Regions from separate parts of the Homo sapiens genome. Here region 1 is linked to region 2. Evidence: fine-mapped expression QTL. A gene starts in region 2. The other region holds a variant in brackets. All regions are shown on one strand. Distances are between the middles of the regions. Region 1 has its middle 23 kb from the start of ID3. Region 2 holds the start of ID3 (inhibitor of DNA binding 3).

What was found.
Region 1: its variant is fine-mapped to the expression of ID3 in neutrophils (CEDAR, PIP 0.91).

The regions. Positions count from the first base shown.
Region 1 is chr1:23,580,680-23,583,583 of GRCh38, forward strand. No RefSeq gene overlaps it. Among named protein-coding and RNA genes, the nearest start is that of ID3, 23 kb to the left of the region's middle. The variant G/A (reference allele first, on the strand shown) is at 1,631.
Region 2 is chr1:23,558,494-23,561,397 of GRCh38, forward strand. ID3 (inhibitor of DNA binding 3) reads right to left here and starts at 1,008. Exons shown (of 3, transcript NM_002167.5): 1 at 634-1,008; 2 at 442-526. The coding sequence starts at 933. The coding sequence ends at 467. All of the region lies in intron 2 of LOC124903876 (a long non-coding RNA gene), which reads left to right. RefSeq lists an enhancer at 1-7 and silencers at 948-1,207, 1,075-1,321.

The sequences.
Region 1 (2,904 bases), 22 kb after region 2:
TCTGGGGCCTGACAGACCTGGGGTTGGCACCTGCCTGTCCTATGGTCTTGACTTTGCTCCCCTGAGCCTCAGTTTCTTCCTTTGTAAAGGGGAGAGCCAGAGTAAAGCTGCATTTGTAGAGTGCCAGACAGTGTGCTAAGCCCTTTATCGCATCCTAAGACTCCGCTTGGATGATAATAGGCCAGGAACGCCATTAACAAAGAAACTGTGTTTGAAATTGACAGCTTCACATTGCCACATAAGAAGCAACCTCCACCTCGTGTTTTTGCTTTGAATCTGACCATGTGGTAACTCAAGAAAACTCATGAATATTGGAGTCAGACAGGACAAGGTTCAAAGCCTGGCTCTGGTGTTTACCAGCTGGGTGAAACTGTGTGATCTGTCTTGCACTTCTGAGCCTCTCATAGTTTGCAAAATGGGAATGGTACTGGTCCCTACTTGATGTTGATGTGATGATTAAATTAAACGATAATTTTAAAAGCATGCTGTTACGAGCTGTGCCACAGAGGGTAGCACAGTTCCAGCACATAGGGGAGGCTTCTCTCTGAAGATGCTACTGCTGAAGATGCTGGTTCAGGAGGGGACAATCCAGGAAGAGTAAGCCAGTACACAGAGGACGGCAACAGCTGGGGACTGATTTTCCCAGAGGAGGAATGAGGGACAGCGCAGGCCTCTTGGGCAGCTGCTTCCTGGGGTTGTGATGTCACCGGCCCATCCAGGAGGCCACAGTACCAGCGCCTGTTACTGCCTCCCAGCTGGCCGGCTCCACTTCCTGCGCCCTGAGCCTGCCCTTGCCTTCTTTCTCATGACCCTCGGGAGGCAGCTGGGCTGCAGCTCAGAAAGCAACGCTCATCTGCAAGTTGGGACAGCAGAGGCCCTTCATTCCTCCCCAGGGCTCCCACACCTTGGGAGGGACTGTGAAGAGTGACTCTTGTCCAGTGGTTTTCAAACTGGGTTCCTCTAAGCCCTGGGGTATTAGTGCCCCAGGGACCCCTGAAGGTAAGGAGGTGGCGCGTGGTGGAAGCAAGGGGCACCCTAAGAAGGCTCAATTCTTTTTTTTTTTTTTTTTTTTTTGAGATGGAGTCTCTGTCGCCCAGGCTGGATTGCAGTGGCGTGATCTCAGCTCACTGCAAGCTCTGCCTCCCGGGTTCATGCCATTCTCCTGCCTCAGCCTCCCAAGTAGCTGGAACTACAGGCGCGTGCCACCACGCCCGGCTAATTTTTTGTATTTTTTAGTAGAGACGGGGTTTCACCATGTTAGCCAGGATGGTCTCGATCTCCTGACCTTGTGATCCACCCACCTCGGCCTCCCAAAGTGCTGGGATTACAGGCGTGAGCCACCATACCCGGCAGCAGGCTCAATTCTAATGCCACTCCCTTCACTCTCCAAAGCAGCTTTTTTTTTTTTTTTTTTTTTTTTTTTTGAGATGGGGTCTTACTCTGTCACTCAGGCTGAAGTACAGTGGCATGATCTGGGTTTATTGCAGCCTCGACCTCCTGGGATCAAGCAATCCTCCAACCTCAGCCTCCTGAGTAGCTGGGACTACAGGTACATGCCACAATGATCAGCTAATTTTTTATTTTTATTTTTGTATGGACGGGGTCTCCTCATATTGCTCAGGCTGGGCTC[G/A]AACTCTTGCTCCAGTGATCTTCCCACCTGGGCCTCCCAAAATGCTGGAATTACAGGTGTAAGCCACTGTACCTGCCTAACAGCCCCACTTATTATTATATTTTTTTAGACTGAGTCTCGCTCTATCACCCAGGCTAGAGAGCAGTAGCACGATCTTGGCTCACTGCAAGCTCTGCCTCCCGGGTTGACACCATTCTCCTGCCTCAGCCTCCTGAGTAGCTGGGACTACAGGTGCCCACCACCATGCATGGCTATTTTTTTTTTTTTTTTTTTTTGTAATAGAGACAGGGTTTCACCGTGTTGGCCAGGATGGTCTAGATCTCCTGACCTTGTGATCTGCCCACCTTGGCCTCCCAAAGTGCTGGGATTACAGGCGTGAGCCACTGTGCCCGGCCACAGCCCCACTTTTTATCTTGTTTATGAATTGAGTCTTCATATCAAATTTAATTTGGGAAAAAAAGACTGTGACAAAAGAAAGTTCAAAAAACCTCTGATCTTATGCATATGGGAATTAAATCCCAGTTTAAAAAAACGCTCCAAACTATTCTACTCATTTCATTTTCTAGATGGGAGACTGAGGCCAAGTGAGGAGGGGGGGCTCATTTGCAGCCACCCAGTGAATCAGTGTCAGAATCAGGAACCAGGCCTCCTGCTATACCAGATTCTGTTTCTACATCATTTGGTACCAGGTGTGGGGTGGGGGGCAGACAACTCTGATTCTCACACCTGGCAATCACCACCTTACTTCTGTCACTCCGGGAGGCACAGCTCAGAGGCAAAGTGAATCCAACTCAGTGACAGAAAACTGAGCCTGAAGCTAAACATGCAATCATCTCACCTCACTGAGCCTCAGTTACCTTCCTCTGTCAAAAGATAATACCGGTACATAGGCCTGGTGTGGTGGCTGACGCCTGTAATTGCAGCACTTTGGGAGGCTGAGGTGGGCGGATTACTCAAGGTAAGGAGTTTGAGACCAGCCTGGCTAACATGGCAAAGTCCCGTCTCTAATAAAAATACAAAAATTAGCCGGTGTGCTACAAGCATGTGCCTGTAACCCCAGCTACTCGGGAGGCCAAGACAGGAGAATTGCTTGAATTTGGGAGGCAGAGGTAGCAGTGAGCTGAGATCGCACCACTGCATTCCAGCCCGGGTAATAGAGACTGTCTCAAAAACAACAACAAAAAACTGGTGCCTGAAGAGGAGTACTGAGAGGACCTAACTTATTAGTTGTTCTTTCAACAAACATTTTGAAAACAACTACTATGTCCCAGGCA
Region 2 (2,904 bases):
GCCGGCGCCAGGGAGGAAACTTGGTCTGTACCTCCAGCTGATAACTCCGCGCCCCACGCTGCCCCCACCCAGTTGGCGCCAAAGACCACAGGCGGAGCTTGCGCTACCCCTCCTACTTGGAATTGACACTAGCTGGGAGGGGGCTGCCGAAGACAGCTCCCTATACAACATGGAACAGAAAGACTTGTATTTAGTCGGACCCATGTCTACTTTGCCAGACCCTCGGCCACTGCGGGAGGGCAGGGCCCAGGCGCATTTAAGGCTTAAATGCACATCACATGGAAACTGACTCTGCCATTCATTTGATGCAACCATGGGCAAGTCACTTGTCCCTCTCTGGCCTCAGTTTCCCTAAACCGAGTGAGTGGCAATTTTTCAAAACGTCTGCCAACTCCAGGACTTGCCGTTTAAACCTCCCTCTCCAAGAGAGGAGATACTCACCTGGAGGTGTCAGGACACGGCCGAGTCAGTGGCAAAAGCTCCTTTTGTCGTTGGAGATGACAAGTTCCGGAGTGAGCTCGGCTGTCTGATTAGAGGAAAAGAGGGAAGAGTTACGCGAGGCAATCGGGAGCTCCGAGGGTCCCGCAGCATCCTTGCCTGGGTGTTCAGCCCTGTCCCGACTTCGAGGCTTACCTGGATGGGAAGGTGGGGGCCATCAGGGGGTCCAGGGGCTGGCTCGGCCAGGACTACCTGCAGGTCGAGAATGTAGTCGATGACGCGCTGTAGGATTTCCACCTGGCTAAGCTGAGTGCCTCTCGGGACTCCGGGTACCAGTTCCCGCAGGCGGGAGTAGCAGTGGTTCATGTCGTCCAGCAAGCTCAGCGGCTCCTCAGCTGCCGGGCCCTTCCCTCGGCCCCGGGCGATGGCCAGACTGCGTTCCGACAGGCAGCACACCGCCTCGTAGCAGCCGCGCACCGGGCTCAGCGCCTTCATGCTGGGGAGTGAGTCCAGAGGTGCCCCAAAGAGAAAGAAAACCAAAAGAAGTCCCGCTACAGTGACCTGCAACGCGCGCACGCTCGCCGCGGCGGTCACTTATAGAGCCTGCCTGGAAGGCACGCCTCTTTATTCAAAATGGCCCGCCTCGGCCCTGCCCCCGCCGGCCCTGGGCGTTCACAGCCCGCTTAAATTGCAAACAGGCTTCCTCCGGCTGGTCTGACGCCGAAGACCGCGGAGCCGCGGATTCAAAGAATGAGGAAGCGCTGATACCGGGGAGAGGCGGGCCTCTCCGCCAGCAAGGATTTAAAAATCACTCAAAACCATTAACTTCCAGAATTTGCTTTTTCCTGGCAGCACCCCAGATCTTTGAGCTTCCCTGCCCCCTGCCAGTCCGCCTTTAGCCCAACACTGGTTCGAGCCACAGCTCCTCCGAGGTCATAAATCCCTGAACAGCAAAGAAGCTCCCCCCACCCCCCGTTTTTTTTAAGCGAAAGATTTTTCAAGGGAAACTTGTAAGGAATTAGTGCCGCCTTGTTCCCCAATTTGCTGTTCGTCTGACCTCCAGACTCACTGGCGTCAGGAATTATCTTGTGACCAGAGGGAAAAAAAATTAATTGCGGTGAAGCTGAGGTTACAATGAAGAAAACAGATTTGCGCTAGGCGCTGAGATTGCAGAAGGAGGAGGGAAAGGGGGTTTGAGCAAAGAACACTATTTATTTGAGCAACAGGGGAAAAGAAGAAAGCTTGAGCCCATGCTTTTTGCATGGGGAAAAAAGGAGCCTGGACCCTCTGCCCCATAAACTCCATAACGAACTAAATATATGCACAGTTGTGCTTTGTGAGTTCAATTAGAATTTTGGACAAGGTTTTAAATATGGAGGCACAGATGGGACAATTTCTACATAAACCTTTTTAAGAGCCCCCCCCCACCCAATTGGGTCAGCAAATTTCTTAACTTCCCCTCTCTTCACTTTCCACACACCTCTGTGTAGAAAACAGTGGTAATTTCATTGCTCTATTGTCTGTCCCTTTCTGCTATGGAAGGGCAGGCCACCTGGACTTGATTATTCTTAGCCCTGCTGAAGTAGCTCCAGCTCCATCTGAAAGACCAGGAAAGGAACCAGAGGGCCGGCAAACTAAGTCCTGTATTGCAACAGGACACTGTGCTCAGTATTCTTTGATTCTTTGCTTGCCTTCTTGTCACCTCCCTAGACATTTGGGGACCTGCACTTCCAAGATGCTGCTTTCCATTTTGGAAATGACCAAGTGGGATTCCCCCAATAGTTGCTTTCCTAATGAATCATTGGTGAATATTTATGGAGTCCCTCCGCATAAAACAGTGGCTCCTGCTTTCAAGAATCTCACAATTTGGGGAGACAAGATTAACACAGGAAACAAGAGTTCGATAATGTGTGGCACTGATTAACAGGACAAGGGGGGCTCAGAGCCAAAGAGAGTCGCAAAACGGTTGAAAAGGACACTGACTGGGAATTGAGAGCCCTGGGTTCATCATGCTAGCCCTGACAATAATTTGTCATGTAATCTTGAACAAGCCCAGGTACTCTGGCTTTAATTGCCTTGTGAGTAAAATAGACGATGGTACTAAGTGATTATTTAAAATCCTTTCCAATTGTAGAAGTCCAAGGTTGTGTGAAATTTGGATATGTAGGTGAAAGATGCTGAGGGGCCCAAGGAAGGCATTTAAGACATGCCCAATGTCACACTACAAGTAATAGCAGAGCCAGTCTTGAAGCCTCGTTCTTTTCCATCAAACCACAGGGCTCTGTGGCCCAAGAAAGATTTCTTCCTGGAATGTTTTTTTCAAGGACAGGCTCTTCAGTAAGAAAAGAGGAAGAAAACCTGTGAGTGGGCAAGTCAGTCTTTACATGCTACAGCCGTCAAGTGCCAGCTATTTGGTCAGGAAAGGCAAAATAATGGCTGTAGGAACTCCTGAATAACCGAAGAGAA